7 linked regions of the Homo sapiens genome follow. The protein of the gene in region 4 purifies or fractionates together with the protein of the main gene of each other region. This does not show direct contact. Each region holds a gene or a part of one and is shown on either strand. Other genes may lie near its edges. The genes, in order: AMFR, CLGN, LGALS3, SLC12A6, SCAMP1, UBAC2 and RAB6A.

Evidence for each region.
Region 1: the proteins of SLC12A6 (region 4) and AMFR purify together in Homo sapiens (affinity purification with mass spectrometry, with the first as the bait; one large-scale study listed by BioGRID). This does not show direct contact.
Region 2: the proteins of SLC12A6 (region 4) and CLGN purify together in Homo sapiens (affinity purification with mass spectrometry; 3 studies listed by BioGRID and IntAct, with this or other methods). This does not show direct contact.
Region 3: the proteins of SLC12A6 (region 4) and LGALS3 purify together in Homo sapiens (affinity purification with mass spectrometry; 5 studies listed by BioGRID and IntAct, with this or other methods). This does not show direct contact.
Region 5: the proteins of SLC12A6 (region 4) and SCAMP1 purify together in Homo sapiens (affinity purification with mass spectrometry; 2 studies listed by BioGRID and IntAct, with this or other methods). This does not show direct contact.
Region 6: the proteins of SLC12A6 (region 4) and UBAC2 purify together in Homo sapiens (affinity purification with mass spectrometry, with the first as the bait; one large-scale study listed by BioGRID). This does not show direct contact.
Region 7: the proteins of SLC12A6 (region 4) and RAB6A purify together in Homo sapiens (affinity purification with mass spectrometry; 2 studies listed by BioGRID and IntAct, with this or other methods). This does not show direct contact.

What each region holds. Positions count from the first base shown.
Region 1 is NC_000016.10:56,360,952-56,363,748, reverse strand, and holds the end of AMFR (E3 ubiquitin-protein ligase AMFR), read left to right. Parts: intron 1-692; coding exon 693-840; 3' UTR 841-2,297; downstream 2,298-2,797. UniProt on the Homo sapiens protein: E3 ubiquitin-protein ligase that mediates the polyubiquitination of lysine and cysteine residues on target proteins, such as CD3D, CYP3A4, CFTR, INSIG1, SOAT2/ACAT2 and APOB for proteasomal degradation.
Region 2 is NC_000004.12:140,417,381-140,421,696, forward strand, and holds part of CLGN (calmegin precursor), read right to left. Parts: intron 1-4,316. UniProt on the Homo sapiens protein: Functions during spermatogenesis as a chaperone for a range of client proteins that are important for sperm adhesion onto the egg zona pellucida and for subsequent penetration of the zona pellucida.
Region 3 is NC_000014.9:55,131,846-55,136,161, forward strand, and holds part of LGALS3 (galectin-3), read left to right. Parts: intron 1-1,506; exon of another isoform or gene 1,507-1,509; coding exon of another isoform or gene 1,510-1,547; intron 1,548-4,316. UniProt on the Homo sapiens protein: Galactose-specific lectin which binds IgE. May mediate with the alpha-3, beta-1 integrin the stimulation by CSPG4 of endothelial cells migration.
Region 4 is NC_000015.10:34,327,274-34,331,589, reverse strand, and holds part of SLC12A6 (solute carrier family 12 member 6), read left to right. Parts: intron 1-4,316.
Region 5 is NC_000005.10:78,415,815-78,420,130, forward strand, and holds part of SCAMP1 (secretory carrier-associated membrane protein 1), read left to right. Parts: intron 1-726; coding exon 727-835; intron 836-2,960; coding exon 2,961-3,089; intron 3,090-4,316. UniProt on the Homo sapiens protein: Functions in post-Golgi recycling pathways. Acts as a recycling carrier to the cell surface.
Region 6 is NC_000013.11:99,340,100-99,344,415, forward strand, and holds part of UBAC2 (ubiquitin-associated domain-containing protein 2 isoform 1 precursor), read left to right. Parts: intron 1-220; coding exon 221-466; intron 467-4,316. UniProt on the Homo sapiens protein: Restricts trafficking of FAF2 from the endoplasmic reticulum to lipid droplets.
Region 7 is NC_000011.10:73,715,663-73,719,978, reverse strand, and holds part of RAB6A (ras-related protein Rab-6A), read left to right. Parts: intron 1-1,088; coding exon of another isoform or gene 1,089-1,194; intron 1,195-1,260; coding exon 1,261-1,366; intron 1,367-3,616; coding exon 3,617-3,728; intron 3,729-4,316. UniProt on the Homo sapiens protein: The small GTPases Rab are key regulators of intracellular membrane trafficking, from the formation of transport vesicles to their fusion with membranes.

The sequences.
Region 1 (2,797 bases), on a different chromosome or scaffold from region 4:
CACTGGGCCCCACTGGTCTACCTCTGATGCTGGTACTGTCAGTCATCTCCCATGGACCCCTTTGGCCACGCTTGCCGAGAGAGCACTTGTGTGCTAACCTGATCTAAGCCCTTTATATGAATTACTTTAACAGCTCTAAGAGGGAGCACTGTTAACCCATTCAGCTGACATACAGCTGAAGAAATGGAGGCTGGAGAGGTTAGCACTGGCCTGGCCCTGGCGTCTGTCTCCCAGGTCCTCCCTGTTGACCACTCTGCCTTTCAGCTGAGCATTGTACACACACTCAGCGCATCTGTGCGTCACACACCCATGGTTGGTGGCAGCTACAGCAGGTGTGTCCTGTGGATAGAGGGGGTTTTGTTCCAGCTCTTAAGGACAGGGCCAGCACTGTGTTCCTCAAGTGGGTTTGGGCCCTGGCAGACCCTGTGATTGTGGGAGTTCTGTGCTGTGTCTGTGGGTGGAGGGGATGGGCAGGAAGAGACAGCAGGGAACAGCACTGAAGGGTTCCTCCCTGGTGCAGAGAGAATTTGCGCCCATCTGTTGGGGGCTGGATGTCTTGGTCATTGGGTGGTGCTGAGTGACAGCTTCATGAAGGTGCCTGGACATGGGGAGATGTGAAATCAACCTTCTGGCTGTGTTCCACAGCTCCCCATCTCTCCTATGAGAGAGAAAAAGTCTTCTGTTTTTTCTAGACGTTTCTTGAACAAAAGTTCTGAAGATGATGCGGCCTCAGAGAGCTTCCTCCCCTCGGAAGGTGCGTCCTCTGACCCCGTGACCCTGCGTCGAAGGATGCTGGCTGCCGCCGCGGAACGGAGGCTTCAGAAGCAGCAGACCTCCTAGCGCTCCCTTGCCTTCCTCAGCTGCCTCCTGCGCCCTGTGCCCGACTGACTGGAGGAGGCCTGTCCCAATTCTGCCCGCTCCATGGAAAAGCGGGCTTGACTGCATTGCCGCTGTATAAAGCATGTGGTCTTATAGTGTTTGGACAGCTGATAAATTTAATCCTTCTTTGTAATACTTTCTATGTGACATTTCTCTTCCCCTTAGAAACACTGCAAATTTTAACTGTAGGTATGATCTCTTCTGGTGTTGACTGGACTGCTTGGGGTGGGGGACGATCAGGAGGAAGTGAGCAGTCGCCTGCCTGCAGCAGGCAGCTTCTACTCCTGCCTCATGCGTACGTCCCACAAATGCAGGTGTCCTGAGCACCACACCCAGTGGGAAGAGTGTGGGGGAGGCGCACAGTGTGAGCCCGCCCCCACGTCGTGGGGTAACATCTGTTATCAAACTGCTGTCGTTGTTGTGGAAGCATGTAGACTGTGCCAGAGGCCAGACCCACGGGCTCATGCACCCCTGAGCCAGCAGGGCATCTTGGAAAAGGAACTCTTGGTTCGATACCTGGAGCAGAGGAGGGGAAAGTCCAGGGCTATAGGGTGTGATGAAGTCACCCCTTTCTGTCCCACTACATCTGGGACTGACTTTCCGAGCCTCCAGTCCAAAGCCGGCTTGATTTCCGTGAACTCTGGTGCTCCTGCATCTCATGAGTGTGCCCCATGGGTCCCCTCCCCTCTCAGCATTTCCTTGTCCCGTCTGGACCTGGGGAGTGGTTAGGCAGCAAGCTTTGGTTTATGGTTTTCATTCATTGGTGAAGTAAATTAGGCAGTGCTAAAGCCTGTGGGTTTGGTCCTTGAACAAGATGTGGGCCTTGCAAGATGGGAGAGTAAACCTTGAAGGGCTTTATTAAAGAAATAAAAAAGAACTTTTGTATCTTTTATCCTGGGAGCACTGCGTTTTCCTAGCTGTGTTATTCCTGGTTTAATTCAGCAGAGAAGGTAAGGTGTGAACCTACCTGCCTTGGAGAGGGCCCAGGTCCCAAATCTCTTCAAATTCTTCACATGTTTAACTTTAAGGATTTGAACCATGAAGTCATAGGTTACAGACCTCAGTTTTATGCCCCATTGGATTACTTTTTTTTTTTTTTTTTTTTTTTTTTTTTTTACTCTTTGAAAGCTTTGTTTTGTGGTAGTCCTTTTGGGAAGAATCCAGTATTATCCACAATTATTGGCAAAGTTTAAATGTATTTTACATAACGGAAAGTTTTTAGAATGTTGAAAAGTAATTGAAAAAGGTGATAGGTAAATTTTTAGGCAAAGATAATTTATTTCAATAAATCTTTCAAAAGCCTTACCTTGAAATGCTGTTAGTAAATTTCTGTGATTTTTTTTTTTAATTTGTTTTGCTGAGAGCATAGCTATTTGTTTTTATTGTAAAACAATAATAATAATAAAAAGCAAACTCTATTGGTGTGTTGTGTGTGGCTGGAAGCTAAGGCATGTTTTTGTGTGGCTGGAAGCTAAGGCATCTTTTTCCAGAGGTGCCAACGTTAAACCCCATTTTGATTTGGATTTTGTGTATACTATTTTGGTTGGAGGGTTTTTTCCCATGTTTTTGAATTGGGAACTTTTGTTTTTCCTAGTAGTGTATTTGGGGAAGGCAGAACTACATTTTTCTTCCCCTTGTATTTATATCTTTTTTTTTTTCAGGTAAGTGTGTAGCGAAAGATTATTTTACTGTCCTCGAATTACATTATACTTCACACGTTGCACCCATTGTAGGTGCCACTAATTCCACATGTTCACAGGTTTCTGATGTGTGAAAAGAGAAAATTACTTGGATCAATTTTAGAGGGTCTTGACACATTACAAAACAGCCATATCACAGTGTTTAGAGCAGGAGCTTATTAAGTAGCTTAAAATGATGCAAGAAGTGAAGTTCTCAGTCCGCCCTTCCATTTTACACC
Region 2 (4,316 bases), on a different chromosome or scaffold from region 4:
TATTCAATTAGGAAAAGAGGAAGTCAAATTGTCCCTGTTTGCAGACGACATGATTGTATATCTAGAAAACCCCATTGTCTCAGCCCAAAATCTCCTTAAGCTGATAAGCAACTTCAGCAAAGTCTCAGGATACAAAATCAATGTACAAAAATCACAAGCATTCTTATACACCAGCAACAGACAAACAGAGAGCCAAATCATGAGTGAACTCCCATTCACAATTGCTTCAAAGAGAATAAAATACCTAGGAATCCAACTTACAAGGGATGTGAAGGACCTCTTCAAGGAGAACTACAAACCACTCCTCAATGAAATAAAAGAGGACACAAACAAATGGAAGAACATTCCATGCTCATGGGTAGGAAGAATCAATATCGTGAAAATGGCCATACTGCCCAAGGTAATTTACAGATTCAATGCCATCCCCATCAAGCTACCAATGCCTTTCTTCACAGAATTGGAAAAAACTACTTTAAAGTTCATATGGAACCAAAAAAGAGCCCGCATCGCCAAGTCAATCCTAAGCCAAAAGAATAAAGCTGGAGGCATCACACTACCTGACTTCAAACTATACTACAAGGCTACAGTAACCAAAACAGCATGGTACTGGTACCAAAACAGAGATATGGATCAATGGAACAAAACAGAGCCCTCAGAAATAACGCCGCATATCTACAACTATCTGATCTTTGACAAACCTGAGAAAAACAAGCAATGGGGAAAGGATTCCCTATTTAATAAATGGTGCTGGGAAAACTGGCTAGCCATATGTAGAAAGCTGAAACTGGATCCCTTCCTTACACCTTACACAAAAATTAATTCAAGATGGATTAAAGGCTTAAACGTTAGACCTAAAACCATAAAAACCCTAGAAGAAAACCTAGGCATTACCATTCAGGACATAGGCATGGGCAAGGACTTCATGTCTAAAACACCAAAAGCAATGGCAACAAAAGCCAAAATTGACAAATGGGATCTAATTAAACTAAAGAGCTTCTGCACAGCAAAAGAAACTACCATCAGAGTGAACAAGCAACCTACAAAATGGGAGAAAATTTTCACAACCTACTCATCTGACAAAGGGCTAATATCCAGAATCTACAATGAACTCAAACAAATTTACAAGAAAAAAACAAACAACCCCATCAAAAAGTGGGCGAAGGACATGAACAGACACTTCTCAAAAGAAGATATTTATGCAGCCAAAAAACACATGAAAAAATGCTCATCATCACTGGCCATCAGAGAAATGCAAATCAAAACCACAATGAGATACCATCTTACACCAGTTAGAATGGCAATCATTAAAAAGTCAGGAAACAACAGGTGCTGGAGAGGATGTGGAGAAATAGGAACACTTTTACACTGTTGGTGGGACTGTAAACTAGTTCAACCATTGTGGAAGTCAGTGTGGCGATTCCTCAGGGATCTAGAACTGGAAATACCATTTGACCCAGCCATCCCATTACTGGGTATATACCCAAAGGACTCTAAATCATGCTGCTATAAAGACTCATGCACACGTATGTTTATTGCGGCATTATTCACAATAGCAAAGACTTGGAACCAACCCAAATGTCCAACAATGATAGAATGGATTAAGAAAATATGGCACATATACACCATGGAATACTATGCAGCCATAAAAAATGATGAGTTCATGTCCTTTGTAGGGACATGGATGAAATTGGAAAACATCATTCTCAGTAAACTATTGCAAGAACAAAAAACCAAACACCGCATATTCTCACTCATAGGTGGGAATTGAACAATGAGATCACATGGACACAGGAAGGGGAATATCACACTCTGGGGACTGTTGTGGGGTGGGGGAACGGGGGAGGGATAGCATTGGGAGTTATACCTAATGCTAGATAACGAGTTAGTGGGTGCAGTGCACCAGTATGGCACATGTATACATATGTAACTAACCTGCACAATGTGCACATGTACCCTAAAACTTAAAGTATAATAAAAAAAAAATCTAAAGATAAAGATGATAGTAGTTATCAAACACAAATAATATGTAGACCTCTTTAAAAGTATCATGATTCCTAAATGTTCACTGAAATTGTTTTTATTATAATGTTGCTTAAGTGTATATAAACATAAAAATGGAAATTTTATAATTATAAAACCAAAATACATTTATATATAAATGCTGAGAAAAGATACAAAAATTTTTTTATCACAAATTTAATGTGGTAGAGTTTTACTAAAATCAAAGCACATTCAAAAGATCAAACAAATATAGGGCTTATTGTAATCAGGTAGACTGCTATGGAGAAAGTTCTTTTGCATATATAATTCCTATAATTCCACAATTACATAATTACTTATATATTTATGGACAAAGACAAAAATGATGGGTGCTGTCATTAACTAGGATTTGATCTCTCTAAATCACAAAAGAGGTATAACTGGGATAGGAAGTAAATGTAAAGGGATCAATTTGACACAATGAAATAGGCTTATTTCCTTAATTTCCTAGTTATTGGCACAGAAATTTGTATATCTGCAAATTGCTTATTAATTGTGAACTCTAAAAGCTTCATTGTTCTAAAAGCCTAAGGGCCTTCCATGTTACATAGTAAAAGGCACTTTGCTTGACTGGCTATTAATCATTTTTGAGCAAAATAAAAACACATAAAATAATACTACTAATAATGAACATTAATATAACTTTAGACCCATATCCTCTCTTTCAAATGAATGTACACTTTAGGTTCCAAACAATTAATTTGTTGAAAAAAAAACATTCTAAGTGCTTTGTTTGAACTCTGGTGTACTGGGCTGCCAAGAAAGAGTTAAGAGGAAGCCAAGCAGGTAGTGCTCTATCTGGAACTCTACCCTTAACTCAACCAGAGCACCCCAGTTTTATTTGTATTCTATATTATAGTTTTTCCTGACTTTTCCTTAGAAATAGTTGCCAATGCTTCAGAAAACAGTTCAGAAAACACTTTATCTTGAAAGTTTGTTTCTTCTTTAAAATTCTATGATCTTATATTTACATCAAAGAACTAGCTAATTTAATCTTTACAGCCCAGGACATGAATAGCGTAGGTACTATTCCTAATCAACAAAACAAAAACAGAGAGTTTTAAAGAACTGCAATTGGTTAGAAGGCATTCTGTAGACAATGCAGTTCTATTGTTTTTATTTGTTCTTTTTTTTAAAAAAAAAAATCAGAAATACAGACTTAATACTTTCTGCGTAATGCTGCAGTATCCTATCATTCTTCAGTGCTGCACCAGCTGACAATTGAGAATTAGATACTGAAGTTCACAGTCTTGAAATCTGTCTCACAATGGTGCCAACATGTTATTAAGTTCCAAACAAAACTATGAGGTTTGTGACATCTCATTTCTTAGAGAGAGGTATGCTATTGACAAGTCTGTACTGAAACTCTGAGAGGTCAGATGCTGGGGTAATACTACAAGAAAATGAAGTAGTTAATTTATGCATTTAAAATTGTTTTAAATCACGTGGTAAAACATTCTCATTGTTGTACAACTAATTTCCAAAACTTTCTTCATGCTCTAAAACTAAAACGCTATACACTTTTAACAACTCCCCACTACCCTTCCCTCCAGCCCCTGGAAACCATCTTTCTAATATCTATCTCTATGATTTTGACTACTCTAGGTACTGCATATAAGTGGAATCATACAGTATTGGTCTTTCTGTAACTGGCTTATTTTACTTAGCATAATGCCCTGAAGCTTCATCCATGTTGTAGCATGTATCAAATTTCCTTCCTTTTTAAAGCTGGACAGTATTCCATTGTGTGTATACACCACATTTTGTTTATACATTCATCTGTCAGTGGACACTTGGGTTGCTTCCACCTGTTGGCTGTTGTGAATAATCCTACAATGAATATGGGTATACAAATAACTCTTCGAGACCTTGTTTTCAATTCTTTTGAGTATATACCCATAAGTTGAATTGCTTGGTCATATGATAATTCTATTTTTTTTTGAATCCTCATACTGTTTTCCACAGTGGCTTTACCATTTTACCTTCCCACCAACAAGGCACAAGGGTTCCAATTTCTACACATCCTTGCCAACATTTGTTCAAAATTATGTTTTTTTAAATAGTAGTCATTGTAATAGGTCCTAATATGGCGTAGTATCATATTGTGGTTTGATTTGCATTTCCCTGATGATTAGTGATACTGAGTATCTTTTCATGTGCTTGTTGGCTATTTATACATCTTCAAGGGAAACATGTCTATTCAAGTCCTTTGCCTATTTAAAAAATCAGGTTTTGTTTTTGTTTTGAGTTGTAGGAGTTCCTACAAATTCTGGATA
Region 3 (4,316 bases), on a different chromosome or scaffold from region 4:
ACCAGTTCCCCTTATTCCAACTTAGCATCACTGAATTTGTCTTTGGCAAATGGGCTTTCCTCAAGTCCTGCTCTGTGTTTCAGCAAGGACAGGAAGTAGACTGCCTCTTGTGTTACTTGAGGAGCAGTGTAGGGCAGTGCCTAGGGGCTCAGGAAGTAGTCTTCTTCTGTGACGGTTGCGCACAGGTCAGGGACCTTTATGAGCAGACATTTCAGAAGTGTTCCTGGGAACCCAGACAACTGGACTGATTGCTGGGTGGGCCTAGAATAGCATAGTGCAGCGGATAGCTACTCTTTGTTAAAGGGAAAAGCTACCAATTAACAGCCGATTAAAATGGTCTGTATTCTAACTCATGTTTAAATTCCTTATTCTGAAGCTACACTGAACTGCTTACTGTAGGTGTTTACAAATGTGGAGACCCAGCTAGTATTTCTCTACTTTTAGTTTATTTTTTGAAGTTTTTTTTTTTTCCCCTCTGACTGTTCAAAATTCTCTGATCCTGGAAACACCAGGGTGGGGTTCACATATCTATAGTGTCTGTAGAGTGGGAAGATTTGTGACATTTGATTGTATGTCTCTCTCTGTAAACTACTCATCTGAAAAGAAAAAAGAAAAAAATTTCAGGCAAGTAAGGATGATACTTATCTGAATAGATGTCTTTTTTGTTTTCCTGAAAGTTTTGAGGTTAATAATCTTGATTTCAAAAGAGCATCAGTTATAATGCTTTTCTTTTCTTTTTCTTGAGATGGAGCCTCGCAGTCTCCCAGGCTGGAGTGCAGTGGTGCCATCTTGGCTCACTGCAACCTCTGCCTCCCGGGTTCAAGCGATTCTCCTGCCTCAGCCTCCTGAGTAGCTGGGATTACAGGCGCCCACCACCACACCTGGCTAATTCTTTGTATTTTTAGTAGAGATGGGGTTTCACTGTGTTGGCCAGGCTGGTCTCAAAACCCTAACCTCATGATCCTCCTGCCTTCGCCTCCCAAAGTGCTGGGATTACAGGCATGAGCCACTGCACTCGGCCTATAATGCTTTTCAAAAAAGAAATCTCATGGTTGGAAGTTGACGGGGCATACCCAATTTTTGGAAAAGTACACTTTATTGGTTAAAATGTCATTATAATTAGCAAATGACTATACAAAATGGCATTCTTGTATTCAATATTCAATATTATTTTGTGCTTGAATGAATCACCCAGTTAGTTTTCTGACCAAAACACAATCCTTTTTAAAAAATTTGTTTACAATTTCAGTATGTTATGTAGTTACAGATGAGTAAGTCAGAGAATTAATTTCACAATGAAGTAATTAACACTTTCAAAGGACTGTACTTTAAAATTTCAAAGTGTGATGTTTTCTATTGGTGTAGAATGAGCCTAAATAAGGAGTAAAAAGACACGAGCCCTACTCCTTGATCTGCCAATGACAGATGACTTTGGGCCACCATGTTATCTCTCTGAGCCTCAGTTTCCTTATGGTGAGAACACAGTAGTCTCCCCCTTATTTTCAGGGGATGCATTCCAAGACCCCCTGTGGATGCTTCAAACCATGGTTAGTATCAAACCCTATATATACTGTTTTTTTGATCTGATAACCAAGCCTGCTACTAAGTGACTTGTGGGTGGGTAGCATCTACAGTGTAGATAGGCTGGACATAGGGATGATTCATGTCCCAGGCTGGACAGTGAGATGGCAGGACAGTACAAGATTTCACCACAAAGAATGTCATTATAACTAAAATAGATAAGGTATGTGAACATGCTTCATAAGCTGAAAAGCGCCACACAAATGCCAGGTTTTGTTCTAGTGGCCTTGTCTAATGTGTCGAGACACAATCTATACTGCCCTCCGAGGTGGTGTTGAAACAGTGGAAATGCAACGAGATCTGCTTTGTTTCCCAAACTGGATTTGGTTAGATTGGAAAATAAACTAAACATGCTTGAGCAGAGGCTTTGAAAAGAATAAATATTAAATTATGGAAATGCCTTCTTTATTTGACTTTCTGGTTGGAATCAGCCTTTAAACACATCTTAATTTGAATAGAGTTATGTTAGGACCCTTTATAAGGCAAATTCAGCTAGTTTTAACAATTGAAACTACCTTTTTGGTTTTTATTGAACCACGTGTGTACATTCATGTAGGGATACACTGCTAACTAGCTAGATTGGCGGTCCTCAACTAGCCATGATTTTGCTCCCAGGGGATATTGGCAATGTCTGAAGACATTTTGTTTTCCTTTTTTTGGTAGAGACTGGGGTTTTGCTGTATTGCCCAGGCTGGTCTTGAACTCCTGGGCTCAAGCAATATTCCCGCCTCAGCCTCCCAAATGACTGGGATTACAGGTGTGAGCCACCACACCTGGCCTGAAGACACTTGGTTGTCACAAGTTGGAGTGTGGTATGCTGGAGTTCTGGCAGCATATGTATTGAAGCCAGCAATGCTGCTGAACATCCTGCAGTGCACAGGACAGCGCCCCACAGCAAAGCATCTGACCTGAAGTGTCAGTGGTGCTGAGGTTCACAATAAGCTCCTGTGCAATGAGGACATTTAAAAGAAATCAAAATGTTGATAACGTTATTGCTGGGTCTTTGATATGTTGCCTTAGGGTGGAAGAAGTATGTGTAATTAAAGGAACTAAGCTTTCTGCCCACCTTGAAGTTCAAGATTGTTTCGTATGGCATCCAAAATGAGGGAGACTTTCTTTTTCTGAATTAAAAATTTTCATTTATTTTCCTTTTCTGTAACAACTCTTCTCTCAAGGTCCCCCTGCAGTAGCAACTTATACGGTTTCTTATACGGTAGTGTGGCAGCCTTTTGGGGAAGGAGGCACATGCAGAGGAGCTCACAACTTTTGCTTTAAAAAGCCAAGCACTACAGGATGTAACGTAAATGAAAGATGCAGTAACCTCTGGAGTCACCGTGACTTCCCTGTCAAGCTGCCAGCAGTTCCCTAGGTTGGAAAATGGGCATGGTCATAACCTAACCACTTCTGAATAGGTTTCAGAATGACCATGTTCAAAAAGAGATGTGTGGCTGGATGCGGTGGCTCATGCCTGTAATCCCAGCACTTTGGGATGCTGAGGTGGGAGGATCACTTGAACCCAGGAGTTTGAGACCAGCCTGGGCAACATAGTGAGACCCCGTGTCTAAAAAAAAAAATAACTTAGCTGGGTGTGGTGTTGTGTGGCTGTAGTCCCAGTTCCTTGGGAGGCTGAGGTGGGAGGATCACATGAGCCTGGGAGGTGGAGGCTGCAGTGAGCCCTGATATCATGTCACTGCACTCCAGCCTGTGCAACAGAACAAGACCCTGTCTAAAAAAAAAAAAGATGTGCAAAAATATTTTAGTCAAAGGTAATGTCTGACTATGATATAAATAATAGCAGTATAGTAAAGGATGAGCATCCCCAATGCAGAAATCTGAAATGCTTCAAAATCCCAAACGTTTTGCATGCCTGCATGATGTTCAGAGGCCATGCTCTACAGAAATGCTCACTGGAGATTTTGGATTTTGGCTCTTCAGATTAGGGATGCTTAACTGGGCATAAGGACATATTCCAAAATAAAAAAAAATGTAAATCAGAAACACTTCTGGTCCTATTTCAAATAAGGGATACTCAACCTGTATAAAATATCCAGTGTGTATAAATGAAGCATATGTTAAGCCCTAGGAGGAGCTCTGCCTGTTTGAGTTTTACCAAAAATAAGGTAATATTTTATGGTTTTTTTTTTTTTTTTTTTTTTTTGAGATGAGGTCGCTCTGTCACCCAGGCTGGAGTGCAGTGGTGCCATCACAGCTCACTGCAGCCTTGACCTCCTAGGCTCAAATGATCCTCCCACCTCAGCCCCTCGAGTAGCTGGGAACACAGGCATGCGCCACCACACCCGGCTAATTTTTGTATTTTTCATAGAGACAGGGTTTTGCCATATTGCCCAGGCTAGTCTTGAACTCTTGGGCTCAAGCGATTTGCCCACCTTGGCCTCCCAGTGTGCTGGGATTACAGGCATGAGCCACCACACCCAGCCAATATCTTGCATTTGAATCAAGTAGTGGACATTTATTGGATCCCTTGGGGCCGATGCCATTTCTAAAAGTGATTGAGTAAATATCACAGGTGGGCAAATCAAAGAGAAGGATATTCTGGTTGTTTCAAGGTCCAGGTAATTCAGGCCATGGCACAGGTGATCCTGAGCTTAGGAAGAACTCACCCATGCCTCAGGGGCCCAGCTGCCCTCCTCCCCTCACTGCTGGAGCACCTACAACAGCTGTGAAGCATCTTGTGCTTTTGGAGCCTTGACATGGGAAGGAACAGGAGAAAGCAG
Region 4 (4,316 bases):
CATTGAGTTGAAGATCTTGTAGACTTAAAAACAAGAGACAAATTAAAAACGTACTCTGATAAAGGCATATTAATGTATGTACGAGAGTAGTGCTACTTCATCTGGCTGCATAATGAATGATCTAGAGAGCTTTTCAAAAAATGCCTCTAGGCTGGGCGCGGTGGCTCACGCCTGTAATCTCAGCACTTTGGGAGGCCAAGGCGGGCGGATCACTTGAGGCCAGGCGTTCGAGACCAGCCTGGCCAACATGGTGAAACCCCGTCTCTACTAAAAATATGAAAACTTAGCCAGGTGTTGCGGTGCATGCTTATAATCTCAGCTACTCAGGTGGCTGAGGCATGAGAACCTGGGAGGCGGAAGTTGCACTGCAGCCTGGATGACAGAGCGAGACTCTGTCTCAAATAAATAAATACCTCTACCCTGACAAACAAAACCTAACAAAAAACAAAATTATCATTTTTAGTCACACACCAAAATAAGTGAATTATATTGTTTTGCTAATCATAGGTGACTATTACTTATTATTATTATTGTTATTATTATTTTTTGAGACAGAGTCTCACTCTGTCGCCCAGGCTGGAGTGCAATGGTGCGGTCTCCACTCATTGCAACCTCCGCCTCCTGGGTTCAAGTGATTCTTCTGCCTCAGCCTCCCCAGTAGCTGGGACTACAGGCACGTGCCACTACACCCAGCTAATTTTTGTATTTTTAGTGGAGATAGGGTTTCACTATGTTGGCCAGGATGGACTATTACCTTTCTCTTAAATAAGTCTTCTATATTATATAATTATTGAATACTATCCATGTTTTACCTCAGCATTCTAATAGCTAAAATATGTTGATTTGGTACCTTCTTAGCTTGTCTGAAAGAAGCATCCTCTTGATAGTTTTGTTTTTTTTGTTTTTGTTTTTGTTTTTTTTTTGAGACAGGGTCTCATTCTGTCAACCAGGCTGGATACAGTGGTGTGATCACGGCTCACTGCAGCCTCAACTTTCTGAGCTCAAGCAGTCCTCCACCTCAGCCTCTTGAGTAGATGGGAACACAGGTGCACACCACTATGACCAGCTAATTTTTTTTTTGTAGAGACAAGGTTTTACCATGTTGCCCAGGCTGGTCTCGAACTCCTGCATTCAAGCAGTTAGCCCACCTCAGCCTCCCAAAGTGCTAGGATTACAGGCGTGAGCCACCGCGCCCAGCTGGTTATATACCTTAACTGTTTTTCCTCTCTTCTCTATACTCTGTAGCCAGATTAAACTTTATAATATACTGCTTTATACCACAAGAAGCAATCAGCCAAATCCAGAATATGGGAAGTTTTATTGGATAACTAGATTCTTCAACAAATAATTGGGATGGGGTGGAGGAGGAGTGATGGGAAGAGAGGGAAAGCTGTTACAGATAAAAAGAGCCGTATCAGCCAAATGCAGTGTGTGAACTTGGTTTGGATTCTGATGTGCATAAAACAATTGAAAAAAGATACTTTTGAGACGAGTGGGGGAAATTTGAACATGTACATGATATTAATATTAAGGAATTGTTAATTTTCTTATAGATGTTTATGACATTGTGATAATGTAAAGCTGTTATCTATAAAGATATATATTGAAGTATTTACAGGTTAAATGAAATGTACTCCAGCTCCTTCCTCCCCACTCCTCCCCAAAAAAGTTGGGGAGAGATAGACAAAACAAGATTAGCAAATGTTTATAATTTGTTGAAGTAGAGTAAAAGGTACATTTTACTATTTCTTAGCTTTTATCTTTGAAGATGTCTGGGAACTCCTGAGCTCAAGTGATCCTCTCACTTGGGTCTCTCAAAGTGCTAGGATTGCAGGCATGAGCCACCATGCCTGGCCAATTTTTAAAAAGGTTAAATTACAATTAAAGGATTTTCTTTTGAGTGTGTCCTAGAATGCTGTAGATATTTGATTAAATATCAGTGATCAATACAGTGATTACCTCAACTTCTTGTCTTTGATCTTCGGTGGTCTCTTCTGTGTCCTCACTAAGTCTTTCCATCATGAGCCCAAATTCTTTTGTTCTCAGTGGCATGTTTCTAGATTCCAGATTCTCATAAATTTTGATATTACCTTTACTGGAATGGAAGGAAATGAAAGAAGGTACTCCTGCAAACCTGGGAACCTTATGAAAGTTATGCTTTCCCATTTTAAAGCTGTTAGAAGAAGGGGAATGTTTCTAATGCTGATGTTTAAGGCAACTTATAATGCTGTAAGCTTTTGAATTATGGCTGCTGCTTCTTTTGCCCTTCGTGTCTAACATATACTTCTGGACTACTAAGAACTTTGTGCAAATTCTAAAAAGGCACTCCTTTGTGCCCTGAGCCATCATGACTTCACTGGAGAAGGGCAAGCTGGATTTCAACCCTCTTCCCCTTGCCCTTCTGGCTTAATGCCCTCGTGCACTGTCTACACAGCTGTAGCTGGTGAGCTTGTTGTTTCAGAATAATGAAGTTACATGAGTTTAAGTTTTTGGTGATGTGTGTTTCTGAGGAGTAGGTATGAAAGTTTGGAGAGCTATAGTGTAGGAATTATGTGAGCATTTGAATGTTAAAACAATGTATTCTTTTAATGAAGTTTTATAAGTTTTACAAGTATGTGGAAAAACAAGAAGCTATTCTCTGTTAAAACCCTGTAATTAGTGCTTCAGTGTATATATGTTTTTATTTTTTGAGACAGGGTCTAGCTCTGTTACCCAGGCTGGACTTGGGTAGGCAGTGGCTATTCAGAGGCACAACTGTAGTACACTGCAGTCTTGAACTCCTGGGCTCAAGCCATCTTCCCACCTCAGCCTCCTGAGTAGCTGGGACTACAGGCATGCACCACCATGCCCAGCTAACTTTTGTATTGGCTTTTGGTAGAGATGGGGTTTTGCCATGTTGCTCAGGTTGGTCTCGAACTCCTGAGCTCAAGCGATCTGCCCATCTCGGCCTCCCAAAGTGCTAGGATTACAGGTGTGACCCACCGCACCTGGCCCTGGTATACTTTTAAGAATCTCAACAATTACATTTGAAGGTACAAGCACAAAACTGCAGAACATACAACATATACACATGCATACAGCACCTTGCCTTAATGGTAGTTCAGTACCTGATGAGTAGGAAACACTATCACCATATTTGCTCAGCTCTAAGGTGTGTACATTACCATATTTTAACATTTCTGATATTCAGGTGCGTCTTACTTTTGAAGAATTTTTAAGCTACTGTTAAAGTGGAATTTATACTTAACAAGATTTCAGAATCAAGTCAGTATTGTAAATAAGTCAGTCTGAGGGGCTTTGCGAAACCTGAAGTTTTGAAGTTACCTTTGGATGTCTTAACTGAAAAAAATGTAACGGCTGAAGTTTTTTTCTTCTTAAAATTTCAGTTTTTGTAGTTGAAAACTGTAGAAATAGAAAACAAAAGCCACATTGTTAGGAAATGACAGGTCTTCTAATTTTAGTCTTTTTTTTTTTCTTTTTAAAATTTCCTGTTATCTTAGCTCAGAGCTGGGTTTCAGTCTCCAGTTTTCTAGCTAATTTAACCAATGGCAGCTTTTTGTTTGTAGTTTTATTACGGCATTGCTAATCCTCATTATATTTGTCGTGGCCTTGAGCAAAAAACTCAATTGATGACATTCACCTGTTTATAGTCATAACCATTTGGTAAATAACTTTAATTTTTGGCAAAGTAGCACCTGAATTTCTCTCATTTTACCAGACAGGTCTACATTTACTTTGGGGTAAAGCTATTTATTTTTCATATTGCTAGTTTAAAAAAAGAGAGAAGAGAGAACACTAATAAGTTAAAAACTCTTATGTACACATCCACGTTTTCACTTTGAGGAGCTATGAGAAATTGAATCTAACCAAAATTTACTTTTATTCTATTTTGAGAGCATTTGCATTTACCATATCTAATTTTTTTTTTTTTTGAGACAGAGTCTTGCTCTATTGCCCAGGCTGTAGTGCAGTGATGCGGTCTCGGCTCACTGCAGCCTCCGCCTCACAGGTTCAAGCAGTTCTCCTCCCTCAGCCTCCTGAGTAGCTGGGATTACAGGCGCATGCCACCATGCCCGGTTGATTTTTGTATTTTTAGTAGAGACGGGGTTTTACCATGTTTAGGTCTCGAACTCTTGACCTCATGATCTGTCTGCCTCGGCCTCCCAAAGTGCTGGGATTACAGGCGTGAGCCACTGTGCCTGGCTAAAGTTGTTTGTTTGTTTTTTTAACAGCCTTTTTTACAGCTGGCTAATTTACATCCTAAGATGCAAACAAAAGATTATGTTTGGTTTATTTATTTTTTTCTGGTTCAGCAG
Region 5 (4,316 bases), on a different chromosome or scaffold from region 4:
TCCATTATTAGGAATTATTGAATTTATGTATCATCTCAGTGGATAAATTTTTATTGCCTTTGGTCCCACTTTTTAATGCACACTACCATTAAGGTAAAAATGATGGAATAATAGATATTATTGGGAGAGCGTTGCAATGGTAAAATAACAGTGTTAGGAGGTAGAAGATGGCAAAAATCTGAGAAGAAAGGAGATTAATAAGATGCCTGATAGCATGTAAGGGCAAATTGAGTTATAAAGAATTTCTTAATCACATCTTTTGACCTCATTCTCCTATAACATTTAAGATATTAGAAAATATTCTTGCATTGGTGGCCTTATATATCATTTAATCTGATTAATAGGAGCCAATTCAGTTGCCCTTTTTTCTATTGTTCATTTTCCTCAACTGTTCCCATTGCCTCTGTTCTTCACTCATTTAGGCATAGAGGTCATCTTAATTTCATTTTCCAGATTACCTAAAGATTGTGACTACTTTTACTAAGAGAAGTTTTCCTCTCCTAATGGACCCAACATTCCCACTGAGAGTTTCTGGAACCCAAAGACCAAATGGACCAAATATCCTCATAATATTTTCTGTAACTATGATCTTCAGTAAATTCCTGTACTTTGGAAGTGTGTTTGAATTAGGTTTCTCTCATAGTAGAGAAGTAGGAGTTAGCATATAAATGTTAAAGTATTTTATACTTCTGACAGTCTATTCACATATTGATATTTTTTATTTAGGAACATGCATTGGCCCAAGCTGAACTTCTTAAGCGCCAGGAAGAACTAGAAAGAAAAGCCGCAGAATTAGATCGTCGGGAACGAGAAATGCAAAACCTCAGTCAACATGGTAGTATCCAAAGAAATTTGAAATAAAAATAACTTTTAAATACTTTACATTATGTCTATACTAGCTCCTAGGTCATTTGGCCTGTGGATAAAACCCTACCCTGTTTTCCTGTTCTAACAAGGAGATCAGACACAGCAGATTGCCTGTTTGATACTCTGTAGCCTTCTAATCTTGGCTGATTTGCATAGTCTTTTGTTGATAGCTTAGAACAGTGTTAGCCTCATCACACAGAAAATGAATGTGAATATGATAATTTTTGCTTACTCTGAGGCCAGGAGCCTTTGATTCTGCAGTTAGGCCCTCCTTGGTTCTGTGGACTCTTTATGAGTACATTTGCATGTACCCTACATTTGACTTTTACCTGATTTATTCAGGTTAATTTCAGATTATCTGCCCCAGTCCTCGCAAGTATTTTGTCAAATCATGTTAGAAAAATTGGAAGCCTAAGGTATTCATATGATGCCAAAGAAATAAGTGGTGAATTGTTGCAGTGAATTCTATTAAGTTTGTGCCTGCCAAAGCACTTCAAAGGAGTCTCTTAGGGAAAGCTAGCAGTCTCTGAGTAAGAAGAGATAAAAGAGCTAGATAAGTCATTGTTAGGATGTCTGGGATAGTGATGCAATGCAAAGCTAGAACAATAACAATATACAGAACTATTTCTTTTTAACTTAGAATGTGTAAGTCTAGGGCCTCATGAGAACACATTTATCCTGGGTCATTTTCTTGCTTGCAGCATCAGAGGTAGCATCTATAGAAGGAGAAACTAAAAGTTGAACTGGGACCAATGTTTCTGAAGTACCTGTAACTAAAATCCATCCTATTTCTTTAGCACTGGCAAATACAAACTATTTCTATGAGAGTTATGTTAGTAAAGACAGTAACAAAGAGTAGGAAATTAACAATTAGACTGCAGTATGTTAGCACATTTTAGTACTTTTCCCCTCTTAACTCATACTTAAATCATCAATACAATCCTGTGAGGGGTGATAGAGTTTTTATTCTCATTTTACAGATATGGAAACTAAGGCTCGGAGGAGAGAGTAAGTTGCCCAAGGCGACCTTGCCAGTAAGTGGCTAGCCACTTCTGGTTCCAGAGCCTCTCTTCTTTACGAGTATTCACTGCCGCTTCTCAAATAGTATGAGATTGGTATGAGAAATGAACTATATGAAATTTGAATAGTATGATAAATGGAACACAGGAGACTCATTGGGGAGAATCAGAAATAGGTTATTGTTCTTTCTATAAAAATTACCCTGGTCTGGGAAAAGTAGGTAAAATTGAATTTTTAAAAACTGTGGGATATAACATCTAAAATCGGGAAATGGCCTTAGGTGCTGTTTTTACCCGCTATTTTCATGTTTTGACTTCTTTATTTTAATTTTTTATTTCCCCCACCATTTCTCAAGTCTTATTTTTAATCTGGTTTCTTTATGTAGACACATTTTTTTCCCTTTACAGTTTGAATTTGTTTTTCTCTGCATTTTTAAAGGTTCTATAATTCTTCAGCTTCCTTATCATGACTGTTTCATGTTTTCTTTGTTGTAGGGTTTTCGTACATGTATCTTTTGGATATTATTTTTTCCCAGATTTTGAGTATTCTAAATTTGATTCTTTGGTATTGGTTTAATCTTGGACTTAACAGAAAACTTGAAAAAATTAGAAGCTAGTCTTTCTCCACTTGAGATAGGAATTATAACAGAATTATATTTGAAGATTTAAGATGCTGAGGAGAAAATTGAAGTTTAAAAACTGGATGGCCCTTTCATGCCAGCCAGACTCTTTGGACTGTGAAATAAATCTGTTTTAGGGTAGAAGCACTGGATATGTGCTTTCTTTTTGTTTCTTGTTTTTTCTGTACATAAATGGTTCCTGCTAAACATGGTATGATATGACACTGGAAAATTATTTTACTATCTAATGTGCTCTAAGGTGATGATATTCTGAGAAAATTTTTTAAAAATCTAAAGCTTGTCTTTCAGAGTTCTAGGAATACAAAGATATAGTTCTACAGTTTTTCTGAACTTTTGTTAACATAATAGAGTTTTTCTTTATTATGAAACAAAAAATAATATCACATTTGTTATAATATAAATAACCTTTTCTTTTTCTAAAAAAAATTTACAGGTAGAAAAAATAATTGGCCACCTCTTCCTAGCAATTTTCCTGTCGGACCTTGTTTCTATCAGGATTTTTCTGTAGACATTCCTGTAGAATTCCAAAAGACAGTAAAGCTTATGTACTACTTGTGGATGTGTGAGTATACAACAATTTACATCTTTGCTTAGAATTTGTATTTTTGTTGTCAAAATCCGCATTTTTATTTCAAGGATAGTATAGCAAACCAGTCTTCTTTTTCTATAGATAAAGCTTAATAATCATGATTTCAGAGTGAAACATATCCTATTTAGGTACTTCAGAATTGTACTATATGTGACAATGTAAGTCCTTGGCTGAGAAAAACTTGTATGTTGAGAACTGGCATTCTTTTGAGGAAAAGACAACTTCTCTGTCATGTGGGTAAAATTTTATAAGATTCTTTTTCCTTGAAAGATGTTATCTAGACATGATTTGCTTGGAAAAAATAGTGCATACTAATTTTATGCAGAGGAAGGCCATTTAAAAGAATTCTGTTAAATGTAGGCGTTTTAGCTATTTTTAAAAGGGCATAAAATTATTACATAAACTAAGTGTTCTTTTTATAGCTTTGAGTACAGTTTACTTTTTGTTTTCAATTGCGATACTTTTATTATTGAAAGTGCTTAATTAATACAGGACATTTTGTTGAACGGAACATTAGAATATACGTTTGGGGCTCTGATGCTTACATCACTTTGAGTATAATAACTCATGGAATACTGAAACAAAATGTCAAGCCGTTAACAGTTTTACTCTGTGTGCACAGACCTCCCACTTACTCTCTGTTTCATTTTTATTCCAAACAGTAGTCTCAGCCTCATTTTGATACCCTGTCAGAAGGGGAGGTAGCTATTGAGGGTTCTCACATGCACAACATCTGGGTTAATGGATAATTTGTAGGGTACATTCTTGATGGAGGAAATTTACTTGTTTTTACTTTATGATTAATGAGACTACCACCCTTCCCTTAATGGATGAGATAATTTTCCTTAAAATCTTTTAGGAGCATTCTTCATGTATGTCAAGTTGTTTTGGAATGTGAGAAGTGTTTCCTAATGGATAGTCTATTTTTAACTCTTCATTAGTATTTTTCGAGATATTCTTGATCTAATATCTTTTGCTGAATCCTCAGTGTCAGTAGTATATATTTTTAATATTAAATGTCTGATTCCATATATGTACATGCTAACCAACTCTTATTTAATCAATATAATATATGCATTTATATTTTATATATGTTTATTTTTTTAAATGGGCAGAAATTGTCCTAGCATTTTATTTTATTTTGAGACAGAGTCTTGCTTTGTTGCCTAGGCTGGAGTGCAATGGCACGATCTTGGTTCA
Region 6 (4,316 bases), on a different chromosome or scaffold from region 4:
ATTCAATAAAAAACAATTTTGTTTTACTAAGTTCAATTTTGTGTTGATTTGCACTGCTTAGTGTTCTGCAGTGTGGTAGAGGATTTTGCTTATTGCCTAACACTGCTATGACTAAGAAAAATACCGTGTGCAGTGTCTGGAGGCTGCTGATTTTTGAGTCGTGTACATTTTTTAAAATAATACTACATTTAAACAATCACATTGGACGTTTTTCTTCTAGATGTCCGGTCTGTGCTACGACAGCAAAATGTTCCAGGTGCATCAGGTGCTCTGCATCCCCAGCTGGATGGCAAAATTCTTTTCTTGGACACTTGAACCCATCTTCTCTTCTTCAGAACCCACCAGCGAAGCCAGAATTGGGATGGGAGCCACGCTGGACATCCAGAGACAGCAGAGAATGGAGCTGCTGGACCGGCAGCTGATGTTCTCTCAGTTTGCACAAGGGAGGCGACAGAGACAGCAGCAGGTAAAAGTGATAATAATCACTAAAAATTTAGAAATTCTCAGTGGCCCAAGCAAATCTTTCCTCTGTGATTGCATGTGAGATAGAGACTACATTTTATTCCAGTGCCTTGCAAGTGGATTTTGACATTTCCAAAGAGATTGTAGGTCTCTGTTAGTGGCCATTCTTAGTTTTTTAAAAAGGTAAAAAATAAATTGCAGCTGAAAGATTGGTCAAACTGGACATTCTTGTTCCACCTATATTAGATAAGCATGACTTCTTAGAGAAACACCAACCTAGTTAACAAGATGTGCTATTTATCTGTTTTTATAATCTTGTAAAAGCCACAGTGTCTTCCTGTTAAAATGCTAATCATATGCTATGGAGTGAAGAACAAATGTAAAATTTCTTGATTTTCCTTGGTTGAAATGAAGAGAATATGAAGGCAAGAAGATTTTCAGTGGAACAACCAAGGAGTAGATAAAAAAAAATGCTGTGTTTTCTCAACCTTGCTATCAATAATCAGAAATTATTGCACATTTGTCTACAAATTCTGCATCCAAACAATCTGATACTACATTTGTCTTCCATGGGCAGTGAGAGAAGGAGGGTTAGTGCACATCAGGCTAAAACCTCAGGCCTGATCTTTCTTGGACACTTCTGTGAGCCAGCCCACAGGGCTCCCCATTTTTCGCCTCCACCTTCTTTACCCCTGGGGTAGTTGTAAACCGTACAGTTACCTCTGCCATCTCTCTGTCTTCCACTAGCATTGGATGCAAGAAGTAGGTCTGCAGATCTCACGATGGTTTGGAGAAGTGAAATCAGGTTTGAGGTCCTTAGAGTCCCATTGGAGATGCAGGTCCCAGAGTTTATATCAGGGGGGGGGAGGAAGGGGGCAGCTTATTAGGGGCAGAGTCTACAAGAGAAATAGAGAAGCAAAAGTTGTTTCTTAAAGATGTGCTTGAATTTGAGTGACTCTGGAACATGCCATAAAGATGCCCATGGTGTATTTAAAGCTGGAGGATGGACATCTCTGTCTTGGAAATGTGGAAGCTACATATATATATAGGTGATGGAGTCACCTCTGTAGGGATGAGAGCTGAGAGCCGAAAGCAAAGAAGTAGTAAGTTCTGTAAGAGAAGAGCTACATCCAAGATGAACACAGGCTACAGATGAAGCCTCGTATTTAGCAGGAGGTAAATCCTTCAAGGAAACTGAGAGAAGAGCGAAAGGTATGAGAAATCAGAATGATCAAGGTCAGAAAAACTGAGTAGTGATTGAGTATAAAGGTAGAGGCACAGAGCTTATGAGGGAGAGAAAGAAGTAGGGGATGGTTCTGATGTTTCTGGCCTAGATAATCTTAGATAGATGACTGATAGTTCCATTTCACCAATATCAAAAGAGCAGATTTGGGGGAAATATGTTGTCTGAGATACCTTTGGAATCCTGGGAGGAGATTCTCCATTGGAGAGCTTTGAATTTGTCCTCATAAGCAAACCAGAGAAGTTGCATTTCTCAGATTGGCCTCCCCAGGAAGATTTTTATACAAAGAGTTTATGAGAGAACACCGTCAGCATCAGTATCTATGGGGGCGGGCTGGCGAAGGCAGCAAGATGGGACAGAGGGAGCAGCTGCAGTTCCAGCAAAAGCCTCGCTGGTCTTATGGAGCACAGTGAAGCTGGGAGAGCCCTTCTGAGTTGTCCCAAAATGGGGACCAGTCCTGTTGGGTAAGTCCCATGCGTACGACCTCTTTGAACCTTAATTACCTCCTTAAAGTTCCTACCTTTAAATACAGTCACATCGTAGGGTTAGGGCTTCAGCGTGTGAATTTGGGGCAGGGGCAAGGGGTGGGAGACAGTGTGTTCCATAACACTGCAGAGTGGAAAGGGCCCAGCATAGTCTCGGCGCTGAGTGACTGTTCTGCTTGCAGACGGTAGTTATCAGGCACACACAGTCTCTGTGGATGCCAGGTTGGATGCTCCATAGTGGCAGGAGATAGGTCGGCCTAGGTGAGGGGGACCCACACATTCCTCTGTGCTACCACCATGGCCATCCATTCGTGTGCCAGCGCTGGGTTATCTGGTGATGGAGCCACAGTCATTCTGTCCACCTTCCATTTGGTGCCTTTTCTGTGGTGGATGCCCGTGGTGGGCACGACCTGCAAGACACTTGATGCTGTTCCTTTAGCTGGATCCTCCTTGTTCCCTCCCTTCCAGTCCCCTGACCGACCAACCAGGTGATCTGCCATGCCCAGCAGATCCACACGTGTAATTGCCTCAGGCCACTTCTCTTCACACAGAGTTGATGACCAAATGTGCTGCCCAGGCTCTGCCCATAGGGGGTTCCCCTGATCGCTGTCTTTCAAGATTGAGCCATCATGCAGCCGTTTCTTTCAGCTGCCACTCATGTCCTGAGCCAGCCTGTCCATTTGGCTGTTTTCCCCTCTGTCACTTGGTCATGAGGGGCCCACCAGCTGTGGTAGTCGGTGTTAGCTGGGAAGAGGCTGTGGTGCAGCAGAGGTGGCTGCCAGGGTGGTCTGGCATGCCTGCTTCTGCAGCTCACCCATGCCCTGCAGCCCCACCTATGCTGAGCCCAGATGCCCGTGTCCATCTGATGATGGGTTTCTGTCGGCCCACCTGGCTTGGTAACTTGGTGGGTCTCCACTGCTGACCACATGCTCACTTTGTGGCCTACAGACAGGCACTTCATGGTGCAGCAGCAGTTTATGCAAGTGGGATTCTTGGCTGTTTGCGCACGCCCTCGCTCCAGGATTCTACGGACCCCCATTGTGGTTCTCCTTTCCTGCCTTGCTGTAAACTCCGCACGGTGTCTTTCCCCCCAGATACTTGGAACATCACGGGATCTGCCAGGTTGTACCCAGGCCTCAGGGAATGAGACAGACCCAAACCCCTGCCCTGCTGGAGCGTGCATTCCCACCAGGCGCCTGTGAAGTGGCACAGGCCTTTATGGCTGTCTACACTGCTGTCAGACTCCTCCACTTTCATAGGATGGTCTCACTAACAGATCTGAAGTCCAGAGCAGGACACCAGCCCCTGGGCTCTTGCTGGGCTTTTACGTTGAGTGGTCTGCTGGGCAGCACAGACCAGACTCTTGATTTTTTCCTAAGCTTCCTAAGTTCTCTTCTAGGGTCCGCACATGGGTACACCCAAACCTGAGCACTTAGCCTCCTGCTGAACTTCTTCACTCAGCTGTGTCTCAGTTTTCTTCACATAAGTATGATAAATCACCACGTAGAGAACTCTTTTGTTAAACCACCACTGGAAATTATCTGCCGTATTTGTGTGCATGCACGAGTACCGTACAGGGTGCAGTTGTATTGGAATGTAATACCAGGAGAAAAGTTTATTTTCATTTACTTTTCAACAAATAAGTACTTAGTGCTTATTATATGGTAGGCCTAGAGCTGGACATTGAGGACACAGGTGTAAAAAAGATAGCCCCCAGTCCTTTTTCTTATGGAGCTTAGGTCCTGTCTCTCTTGCAGAATTAGCATGTTTCACTCTTTATCAGTAAGAAGACCACCACCATTTATTTTGCCAGTCCTATAGTAAGTACTCAGTATATGTTATCTCATTTATGCCCGGTGTACGCCTAGAGAGATGCAGGTATTCCCTCATGACCCCGGAGGCTCAGGGGAGTGCTTGCTTGTCCAGGGGCATGCAGCTGTTGATGGGGATCTGGGAGTGAGACCCAGCTGTGTCTGACTCTGAGGTCTCTGTTTCTGATCCCTAACTCATATACCTCCCAATATGAGAGCTCCTTGGTGATTTGTTTTCCCCCTTTTCACTTTGGCTGGCAGGAAACTCAGTGCCAGGCTTCAGGTTTAATTAGGGTTAAGTTAGAACTTTTGCTT
Region 7 (4,316 bases), on a different chromosome or scaffold from region 4:
TTTTCCTGAATATTCTCTTTTATGTTTTGATATATAGCATGTCATTTCTTAAAATTTGAAAGCGGCCAGGTGTGGTGGCTCACGCCTGTAATCCCAGCACTTTGGGAGGCCAGGATGGACAGATCACCTGAGGTCAGGAGTTGAAGACCAGCCTGGCCAACATGGCGAAACCCCATCTTTTCTAAAAATACAAAAATTAGCTGGGCGTGGTGGCGGGCGCCTGTAATCCCAGCTACTCGGGAGGCTGAGGCAGGAGAATCGTTTGAACCCGGGAGGCAGAGGTTGCAGTGAGCCGAGATCACACCACTGCACTTCAGCCTGAGCGACAAGAATGAGAGTCTGTCTAAAAAAAAAAAAAAAAATTTGAAAGCTTGGAAACGACTTTATCATGATGCAAGAACTTGATACTTGTTTTCAGGCTTTTCTTCCTGTAATATAGATATGGATAGTACGTAAAGACATTTTTATGTAGGGCTGCAAAAAGATCTTCCTCCTTTTTGTTACATTATACACACACACGCGTGCATGCGTGCGCGCACACACTCGCATGTTCTGGGGAAAATGTATGGGAGAAATACAAGCACGGTAGTTAAAAAACAGGTTTGAAAGTATTCTAGACCCAATAGGAAAGAGACACATTTTAGCTTGAGAGAAGCTTTCAAAGAAGCATTAATTCCTTTACTCTGATAGCTTAGGCTGCTCATTGACATTTACCTTAGGTTTTTTTGTTTTGTTTTGTTTTTTTCTCTATTTAACCATCAACAGTCTACTTTTTGCCACTTGAAAGGCATAGGGATTCAAACAGGTTTTAGGTAGGGAAAAAGGGAAGCCATATTTCTGATTCTGTGAAATTTTTCCCAGTGGCATTTTCCAGTCATTTATGTTTGGAGTATGCAAATTTTTAATATTTCTCCCTTTTGAAAAAGGAGTTTTGTGTTATTTTCATTCCTCACTCCCTGCAACCTCTTGCATGAGTCTTCTTTCTACTTCCTTCCCACCCTCTCCCTTTTACAAAAAACATTGTTTCTTTTTTCTTTTTAGTATTAGTTTGGTTTTTTTTTTTTTATTTATTTTTTCCCATCTCACAGATCAGGCTTCAGCTGTGGGATACTGCGGGTCAGGAACGTTTCCGTAGCCTCATTCCCAGTTACATCCGTGATTCTGCTGCAGCTGTAGTAGTTTACGATATCACAAGTAGGTATATTGCAACGGGTTGACCTTTCTTATTTTTCTTGCTTGTTTGACTGATTTTGTTGTTAGGTACGATTGCAATTATGGGACACAGCAGGTCAAGAGCGGTTCAGGAGCTTGATTCCTAGCTACATTCGTGACTCCACTGTGGCAGTTGTTGTTTATGATATCACAAGTGAGTGGAGGGAATTATGCATTTCTAATCTTCTTTCAACCTTTAGCTTAGCTGCATGCATGTTCTTGTCTTGTGCTTGTTTTCCTTACTGGCATGTAAAAATAAGTTTTATCATAGTAAATTACATACCAGCCAGGTCAGAAATATTTGCTTTGGTGTTTATACCAATATGCTTTATATGTAACTGTGCCAGGTTTTTTGCCCCAGAAATTTTCTTTTGGGTCCAACTATGAATCCTCTTCAAGGGTTTCTTAGTATCCTGTTATTCGTAAACCATACCATAATTATAGTTGGAGGAATGTTTCCTTGATCTCAGATTTCTCTAAAATAAAATGATCTGCATTTAAGTCTCTTGCCAGGTTTTCCAAATCCTCCAAGCTTTCTATTGAGGCTATTACAAGCTTCTGCTAGCCAGCTTTTCTCTGCTTTCCCCTTCCAGCCATTCTCTCTCTGTAGAGGAAGACAGAGAAAACATAATGTACAGTTTTCTATTAATCTTTTTTATTTGAATCATATTTTGGTTCTGTGACTGATTTATTTACTTTGTTGCTAACAAATTACACTTTCATTTCTCTCCAAGAAAAAAATTTTAAATAGGAGGTGAAACAACTAGTAGTCTTTTTCTTTTTTCTAAAGATTGAATAATGCCTGTGGCCTTTTAAGTGATTGTAAATTTTCCATGAAGCATTGGTGACTGACAAGAAAATGCTTTCTGATTGAAATTGCCTTTGTAAATTGGTTTATGACATATATTAGGCAATATTAAACATTATTACATGTAGTGGTTCATAACTTATAGGAAAACCAGGGTCTTGAACTCCTGGGTTCAAGTGATCCTCCTGCCTCAGCCTTCTAAAGTGCTAGGTTTAGGCCGGGCACAGTGGCTCACGCCGGAAATCCCCATATTTTGGGTGGCCAAGGCAGGCGGATCACCTGAGGTCAGGAGTTTGAGACCAGCCTGACCAACGTGATGAAACTCCATCTCTACTAAAAATGCAAAATTAGCCAGGTGTGGTGGTGCATGCCTGTAATCCCAGCTACTTGAGAGACTGAGGCAGGAAAACCTCTTGAACCTGGGAGGCGGAGGTTGCAGTGAGCCAAGACCGTGCCATTGCACTCCAGCCTGGGCAACAAGAACAAAACTCTGTCTCAACTACAACAACAACAACAAAAACTAAAGTGCTAGGGTTACAGGCATGAACCATTGTGCCCAGCCCAGTATCTGGGGCTTTCTTTTTAAATTTTTAAAAAATGTGTACCACACTACACAGATGTAGTATCTTGGGCTAAAAAAAATCTTAAATAGACAAAGGAACTATTCATTTGGACTAGTAATACTGTTACTATGCATTCTTGCATATCTCCTCAATTAGGAATTGTTATCTAATAACGAATAATTGTGCTGGCAAAATTAGAAGATTGCATTCAAGGACTTTTTTTGAGATAGGTGCTATATGCAGTCTTTCTTCCTTTGCACCTTTACTTTGGGTTGCTGTTTGTTTAAAAAAAAGAGGTATGTTCATATTGTGCATTGACACGTTTTGTAGCTTTAAAATGTTTGTGCTTACTTTAACCACAGCAAGTGAAACCTGGTGTATTTTTTTTTAAATCCACAAATGTGATTCAAATATTAGTACGTTGTTTTCTTTAGCTGCTGTAAGAAGTGTTGAAGTACTCTACTTAGAATCCAACACTAGAAAAGATAAATTTTGTTACAAGTGTTTCTGATGCATTAAACAAATAAACTTTAGGTTAAAGTGATCACAAACTGAGGAAGCAGTGCAAACAGTGGTGTTGAAAGCTATTGAAAGGCTTTACAGATTTTCTGGATGTGTTGGGACTTACTGGCTGACATACTTTGGAAAATGCTTTCTTTGTCATGTTTGGTATGTGTAAGTGATCAAAAAAGCATTGTGGCAATGTGACACCATATTATCTGCCATAGCTGTCCTTATATTTCAAAAAGTTGTTTTTTTTTCAATTAAATACTACATTGTACTCATTTGATCATGTTCAAAAAATTTTTAAACTACTCTAAAAGGAACCTTGAAGATTTTATTCTTGTAATTTGTTTAAATTGCTGACAGTTGTAATCAGATAAAATGGAGTTATGTTGCAGGCACATTAAAAGTGGGGTACTAATGTGCCAGCCCCCTTCCAACTTCCAGGGCTTTTTTGGAGGGAGGTGCCCACCACCTGGGGAGGCATTTTTCAGCAACACTAATCTCTCTGTCTACCCTCCTATACTAGATGTTAACTCATTCCAGCAAACTACAAAGTGGATTGATGATGTCAGAACAGAAAGAGGAAGTGATGTTATCATCATGCTAGTAGGAAATAAAACAGATCTTGCTGACAAGAGGTATGGAGTTATTTTATATGTGTGTAATGTTTGATTTCTGTGATGCAGCCTTTTATTTTTGTTCACTGAGAAATTGTTTTGAAAGGAGACATGCTTAATCCTTAAGTTTACGTCCTCCCCTGCTTTTCTTTAGCATGGGAACCTCAAATATAAATGTAAATATTAAACAGCCAGTCCTTAAGGGAAATGAATTTTATTTTGTTTAAGCCCATGTGTAAATAACTCTTGTGCAAGTTTGTTTAGACATGAAGCCAGTAAATATTTTGCTTTTTTTAGATCTCATAAGTATGAAAAGTGTTTTGTTAAAGAGCAAGCCATTTTGGAAAAACCTTATCTTTAAAAATTGTTCATAATGATTAAATGCACACTCTTTTCTTAGTAGTCTTCTTATAAAACATTCATTATAATTCAGTGGTGTGGATTTTTGTTTTTTGGTTGTTGGTTTTTAATTGTGTGGCTGAGCCAGACTGTGTAGTTGCACTGAATAGCTTGATTGTGATACCTTAGTCAAATGAGCAAAGCGATATTCAAGTCACAGGATGCAAAATATATTAACATTCACTGTAGGACCCATGGCTTGAATATTTG